2 linked regions of the Homo sapiens genome follow. The protein of the gene in region 1 purifies or fractionates together with the protein of each later gene. This does not show direct contact. Each region holds a gene or a part of one and is shown on either strand. Other genes may lie near its edges. The genes, in order: DNAJC18 and EIF2D.

Region 1 (3,519 bases):
TCTCCAGCCCCCAGCTGTGCATAATTTTGACCAAATCATTTAGTCTCTCTGACCCTGTTTCCTCTCCTGAAAAATGGGGCTGTTAATAATACCTACTTCACAGGGTCACTGTGAGGATTAGATATTTTTAAGTGCCTTATAAATAAGTAACAAAATGCCTATTATTGTTGTGTAAAATAGCACTTACAAAGATAGAAGATAGGAAAGTACCCCCCAGCAAGTTGGAAGTTGGTATAATTCAATGCCCAGGAAGTAAATTGAATTTTATGAGTTGCTATTAAAAGATACCAGTGACACAATATGGTATTGGGCACGGAAGCAGACGTGAACATGCCAGATAGGATTCACGGCCCTAATGCTCTCTCTCTTCTAGCCTTTCGGGGTTCTCTCTCACTAGTTGCAAAGGACTATTTAAATGAAGTCAGGAGAGCTCAGCACGCTTTAGCTCCAGCTGGTTCACTTGGCTTGCCTATTGTCTTATTTTTCTACTGGGTAAAATAGGCCAATACTCTATCCTTAACAAACCTAGCTGGGAACAAGGACCTTGAAAAAGGCAAGGAAGGGTCAGGCGCGGTAGCTTACGCCTGTAATCCCAACACTTTGGGAGGCCAAGGTAGGTGGATCACTTGAGTTCAAGAGTTCGAGACCAGCCTGGCCAACATGGTGAAACCCCATCTCTACTAAAAATACAAAAGTTAGCCAGGCATGGTGGCGGGTGCCTGTAATCCCAGCTACTGAGGATGCTGAGGCAGGAGAATCGCTTGAACCCAGGAAGCAGAGGTTGCAGTGAGCCGAGATCACCCCATTGCACTCCAGTCTGGGTAACAGAGCAAAACTCCATCTCCAAAAAAAAAAGAAAAAGGCAGGGAAGGAGTGTTTGCCATATCCCATACCATGTATTTCTTTTCCAGGAAATATTCATATGTTTTCAAATGTGACAGATGACACTTACTATTACCGTCGACGGCACCGACATGAGAGGACACAGACTCAGAAGGAGGAGGAAGAAGAGAAACCTCAGGTACCTAGGGAGGGAGGAGCACTGCTGCCCATAAACAGTTGTACTTGGCCAACCTTGATGGTACATGGTCAAGTTTTAGAAGTTGAACCTGAGATATGTTGCTTTAGGAAAGATGTGCTTTAGGAAAGCAAAAGCAATGGTTAGAAGAGCTGGAAAATTGGCCTAAATAGGCAGAATGGTATCCCCTCCCTCTGCCCATTCTTGGGTGGCTCTCCCAGAATCTCAGCAATCTGTGGGGCTGACTTCATCAAGGCTTTTTTTTTTTTTTTTTTTTTTTTTTTTTTTTTGAGAGAGGGTCTCACTGTCACTCAGGCCGGAGTACAATAGTAGAAACACAGCTCACTACAGCCTCAAACTCCAGGGCTCAACCAATCCTCCCACCTCAGCCTCTCATGTAGCTGGGACTATAGGTGCGTGCCACCATGCCCAGCTCATTTTTTGTAGAGATTATTTCTCACCATGTTTCCCAGGCTGGTCACAAACTCCTGGGCTCAAGTGATCCTCCTGCCTTGGCTTCCCAAAGTGCTAGGATTACAGGCATGAGCCACCGCTCCGGCTTCATAATTTTCTTGGCTGCAGAAAATAGGAATCCTCTTCAAAATATTTAGAACTAAAGGGGGTTTAAGGTAAGGGATCAAAAGAGTCTCATGAAGCTCAAGGACAAGAAGCACAGCTGGGCCTCATGACAGACAGGAACAAGGAACTGGGATACTGTCAGGCTCCCAAGCAGCTGTGCTCTGCAGGACTCTTTGGGCCCAGATTGTCTCCAGTTTTCCTGCCACTCTTTGCCTCTGTTTTGTTTTCACCAAGCAGCTTTGCTTGTTCTACTTCCCCTTGCAAATAGCCAGTCTACAGTGCCTGAGAGTGTGTGTTCTTCCTTAAAGTGATGACCCAGAAGTGAAGGGTGATGAGTTTCAACCCCAAATTCCTAGGAGAGAAAACGTGATTACCTCTGCCAGAGTTGGATGTCCCCTGAGTCCAATCAGCTGTGGCCAAGCATGATGCTAACCTGGCTCCTAGAGCCCCACTACTGTAAGAGGCACAGTCTGGGCAGGTTTACCTAGAGATGTTTGCTTCATTGGTCTTATTAATGGGGCTGCAGGGGGATTACTGGGTGTCAATCCAGGTTGTTGTTGGACCTCCTTCAGCCTGCTCAGCAGAGAGAGTAAAGGTTATTTGGTATAGATTGAGTATCCCTTATCTGAAGTAAATTGGACCAGTAGTATTTCAGATTTCAGATTTTTTTTTTTTTTTGGATTTTGGAAATTTGCATTATACCATTATATATTTGACAATTCCTAATCTGAAAATCTGAGGCTGGGTGCTATGGCTCACACCTGTAATCCTAACACTTTGGGGGAACTGAGGCAGGAGAATTGCTTGAGCCTAGGAGTTTGAGATTAGCCTGGGCAACATGGCAAGACCTTGTCTCTACAAAAATTTAAAAATTAGCTGGACACGGTGGTGTGCACCTGTGGTCCCAGCTTCTCAGGAGGCTGAGGCGAGAGAATCATCAGAACCCAGGAGGTCAAGGCTGCAGTGAGCCATGTTTGTGTCACTGTACTCTAGCCTGGGTGACAGAGCAAGACCATGTCTCAGAAAAAAAAAAAAAAAGGAAATCCAAAATGCTCCAATGAGCATTTCCTTTAAGTGTCATCCTGGTACTCAAAAAGTTCTAGATTTTGGAGCATTTGTGATTTTGAATTTTCTGATTAGGACTGCCCAACCTGTACTTCTCAGCTGAAAGTACAGCCTTCCCAGAAAAGCCTGGGGCTTTGTGGATCCTCCTATGCAGTGCATTGATAATTTGTTATTTTCTTTGGAGCAACTATCTTATTTTCAATAAGCTTTATATTGATAAAGAACACTTACAGGCCAGGCGCAGTGGCTCACACCTGTAATCCCAGCACTCTGGGAGGCCGAGGTGGGCAGATCACGAGGTCAGGAGATCGAGACCATCCTGGCTGCGGTGAAACCCTGTCTCTACTAAAAATACAAAAACTAAGCCGGGCGTGGTGGCGGGTGCCTGTAGTCCCAGCTACTCGGGAGGCTGAGGCAGGAGAATGGCGTGAACCCGAGAGGCGGAGCTTGCAGTGAGCCGAGATCGCACCACTGCACTCCAGCCTGGGCGACAGAAAAAAAAAAAAGAACACTTACAGCAAGTTTTTATTTTTTTTTCTTTTTCAGACTACATATTCTGCATTTATTCAGCTACTTCCAGTTCTTGTGATTGTGATTATATCTGTCATTACTCAGCTGCTGGCTACTAATCCCCCATATAGTCTGTTCTATAAATCGTAAGTCTGGTATTTCTAAATCTTTCTCAGTAACAGTCTGGGGGTGAAAGACTTGAAGGTTTTGCTGATACATTACTAACATTTCATTTCACCTTTTGCTGTAGAAAACACCGATTTGATGTTTAAAGGAACAGCTGGGTAGTCATGGTGCTGAGACTCAAAAATACTGAGGCAGTCTCCTGTGTGCCTCGGGAAATAGAT
Region 2 (4,020 bases), on another chromosome or scaffold:
TAAGGTGACTGTAGTTAACAACAATGTATTGTGTATGTCAAAATAGCTAGAAAAGAGGACTTACAGTGTTCCCGACACATAGAAATGGTAAATACTCAAGGTGATGATACCCCAAATACCCTGCCTTGATCGTTATACACTCTGTGCATGTAACAAAATACCATGCACCCCATAAATATGTACAAATATCTATCAATAAAAATAAATACCTAAAGCTATGATGACTTCAGTAAATTCTTTGTAAGCTTGCATTTTATTCCTCACAATAGCCAATTAAAGATGATTCATGGGTATTTGTGAGAGAATATTTACTTAGTCGGTAGTCAATGTTGATCGTATACATGGATCTGAACACCCCAGACAATAACTGAGTGTCCACAGCCCATGGTTTGGAAACCACTGATCTTAATTACCTCTAAGATGCTATGGTTTTCTATTCTCCCTCCCAGACATCCTCCCCAAATGTGTCTATGTCTGATAAAGACAAAGACCCAATAAGACAGATCTGGTGCTTCTCATGCACTCACTTTTTGTTGTCTGCATCAACCAGGTCATTTTTCTTGGCGTAGTTAATGACGATCGTTCGGACCTCACTGCCCTCCAGAAAGCTCCCCTTCCTAGGTGAGGAGAAGTGACCCAGGGGTTAGTTCATGCTGTGCCATGAGACAAAAATGCAGATGCCCAGACTCACTCCCTGCTGAGCAGGGAACTTTCCTTAGCTTTCGGCCTCTAGTTTCTTCCCTTTTCCTGACTGAAGTGAGCATGACCATGTGAAGAATAATTACACGCAGAAAAGGGTGAGACCTACTCGTTCATTTAGTCCAGAGGAACTTGCCCAGGGAAGAAGGCTGGAAGCTGGATTTTGGAGAAGGGGAGAACAGGGGCAGAGCAGGTTTTGCCAGTCGCAAAAGAGCACTACTCAGGTTGAGAGGAACTGTAGGCCAGAACACCAAGCAGGCAGAGAAGGGCTGCTCTCCAAAAACTCACTTGTGGCCAGACTCCTGGAAGAGCAGGGTCATGCTGGCTGGGACACAGTAGAGGGGTTTTATATCTGGAGGGTGATAGGGCTGTTCCCTGCTACCCTCCTGGATAGTCTGGGAGGTCGGGGAGGGCTCGGGTATGACGAAAGATGTAATCCTAAAACCCAGCAGAAGGAAAGAAAAAACACATTTTATACTAGCATCTCAGCAATCCCCAGTCCGTGGCCCAGGTGCCCTGGGGCCAGCTGGGCTACAGTGACAGGCCCCCTGCACTCACCTCGGGTGTTTCCAGTCCACAGCCACAATGCTCTCCACCCCTTTGCTCAGCTCCTTCACCTGTATAATCTGCTCCTGCTGCATTTGCTGCAGGAACTTAGAGAGCTAAGGGAGAGAGGGCCAGTGGTAGGGGACTTCATTGATTCCACACACATACTGAGCACCCAGGATGTGCCAGAGTGAGCTAGGCAGGGACTGTGCAGGGATATGAGACAGCCCCTGCCTTCATCAACCAGGAACTGGGAGGCCCCCAACCTGAGGGCCAGGGAGCAAGAAGCTGCTAGAGACTAACCAGTGAGGCCGTTCAGAACTCTAATCAGATATAAAGGGGTCAAAGGAGAAAGGAAAGTGGGTGCCACCAACTGCTTCAGCCCAGGGAGAGTTTCTTTCTTCCCCCTTATACTTGGAGTCAAAAAGCTTAATTCTAGACTGAGCCTGGTAGACAAGGCTTCCCCAGCATCCATCTGGCTTATGTCATATGTGCCCCTACACAACTCTCTGCATGGGTCTGCAAAGAAGATCCTTGCTTACCTTTTTGTAGCTTGACTTCTTTATGTCCAGTTGTCGTCCTTCGGGGCTGATGGCAGATGGAAAAGGCAAATTAAACTAATGAGCAGTCATACTGGGACCTGCCTGACACTGAGAGGAGGGCCTTTTTCCTCAGCCTTCCTCCCCCACCTTCAGAGAGAGGCCACTGTGCCAGAACTCTCTGCCCAGGGATGACAGCAGAGAGGGATGCAGACTATGGGACATTCTAAATCAGTGCTGTTCAAGAGAACTTTCCATAGACGTGGAATGTTCTCTGTGTTGTCTAACAGGGCAGCCATTAGCCACATGTGGGTAGTAAGTACTTGAAGTGTGACTAATGTGACCAAGGGAACTGAATTTTAAATTTTATTTACTTTAAATTAATTTAAACTGAAAATAGCGACATGTGGCCAGTGGCTACCACATTGGATACAGCCTTAGATTCCTCCCAGACCAGACAACCTTCTGTGGCCTCCAAAGTTGCAACAGCAAACTCACACTGTGGGCAGCCAGGCCTGGAGTGGGGCCCAGCAAGCCGCATCCTGGGGTCAGGTCTGGCCAACTAATTATCTACTGTCTATGGTCACATTAGTGCTACAATGGCAGCATCGAGCAGTTGCAACAGAGATGGTGTGGCCTGCAAAACTGAAAATATTCATATTTACTATCTGGCCCTTTACAGAAAAACATGCTGACCCCTGCACTACAGCAATTAGTTTTGGAGAGAACATTCCTGATAAAAGCTTACATCTTCTCTCAAAACATGACACGCAATAGCAGTGGATTCTCGAGGAGTCCTTCTAGAATCCACCCCAGAATCCTATCCTACAGAATATTCTGGGGCCCCTTTACCATATATTTGCAACCCAAGAAAGTCAGAACAGATTACCAAGTATCCCTCCACACACTCCAGACACCACATTTGTACAGGATAGCTTAAAGACACCCAAGTATAAATGGGAAGACATTACATTAAGAATCACTTTTTTAAAAAACCACAGCCAGATTCTCAAAAAGAAATAAATTCAGGCCGGACACAGTGGCTCACGCCTGTAATCCCAGCACTACGGGAGGCCGAGGCAGGCGGATCACTTGAGGTTAGGAGTTCAAAACCAGCCTGGGCAACATGGTGATACCCCATCTTTACTAAAAATACAAAAATTAGCTGCACATGGTGGCATGTGCCTGTAATCCCAGCTACTCGGGAAGGCTGAGGCAGGAGAATCTCTTGAACCTGGGAGGCAGGGGTTGCAGTGAGCCGAGATCACGCCACTGTACTCCAGCCTGGGTGACAGAGTGAAACTGTGTCTCAAAACAAAAAATAAATAAATAAATAAATTCAATCTCAGGGTAAAAATCAATAAGCAAACCTCCTGACATGATAGTATTTACTGAATGCTTATTATGGTTCAGGCTATGTAATCTTTACAGCAATCCCATGATTATTAGAAATTAGGACTCAGAGAAGCCCAGTAACAAGCTAAAATGCACATTGCTTGAACACCCTGGAGACCTAGCAGTTGAGTACAGACAGCTCTGTCTTCAAAATCCAGGTTCTATCCACACGCAATAATACCACTCCTGATGGCTTGTGTTTTGGATGGGGTGGGCCGGGACGGGGGGTGTTCACACCAATTCTTCCTCCTAATAAAACCTAATGTGGCCCCCCACATACTTTTCAGAAGTGTGAGGAGGTTGAATGTTCCAGAAGAAGATTCCTGACAAAGAGGCTGCCCTGGGACACTTCCTGCAGAGGACACGCTGCCCGATTTGTGAGGTTGCCCAGAACCCCCACGGCAGAGGCAGTGTTCACAGAATCTCAGGAATTTTAACTTTCCGGTCCTCAATATCCTTTCATTGGCTAAAATTTAAGATTTTGTTTTAACAGCCCAGCAAGCTAAGAATTAACTTTTTAGAACCCAGGAACTAATGTATTTGTCAGATAAGCCTTCCCTCCACTCTTTCCACAGCATGTCCCTCAACCAGTCCCTGCATTGGCCCCATCCTGTCCTACTACCAAGGAGCACACGTGAGACCCCGGCCCCGGCCTCCAGCCCACATCAGTGCTTTCCATACCAGCAGGAGAACATGTGGCTGCCAAGGAAAGTGCTGGTGAGTAAAGGGAGGTCAGCCTTTTTGACTCGGCACTTCAAGGCATGTAAGAAGCATTGCTGTAACAGCTCATCCATTTGTTCTGCAGGGAAAAGACAAGAGCCACATCCTTCCTGAGGGATAC

What was found.
Region 2: the proteins of DNAJC18 (region 1) and EIF2D purify together in Homo sapiens (affinity purification with mass spectrometry; one large-scale study listed by BioGRID and IntAct). This does not show direct contact.

What each region holds. Positions count from the first base shown.
Region 1 is NC_000005.10:139,422,507-139,426,025, reverse strand, and holds part of DNAJC18 (dnaJ homolog subfamily C member 18), read left to right. Parts: intron 1-911; coding exon 912-1,021; intron 1,022-3,208; coding exon 3,209-3,318; intron 3,319-3,519.
Region 2 is NC_000001.11:206,598,476-206,602,495, forward strand, and holds part of EIF2D (eukaryotic translation initiation factor 2D), read right to left. Parts: intron 3,979-4,020; coding exon 3,861-3,978; intron 1,834-3,860; coding exon 1,788-1,833; intron 1,362-1,787; coding exon 1,258-1,361; intron 1,138-1,257; coding exon 988-1,137; intron 618-987; coding exon 528-617; intron 1-527. UniProt on the Homo sapiens protein: Translation initiation factor that is able to deliver tRNA to the P-site of the eukaryotic ribosome in a GTP-independent manner.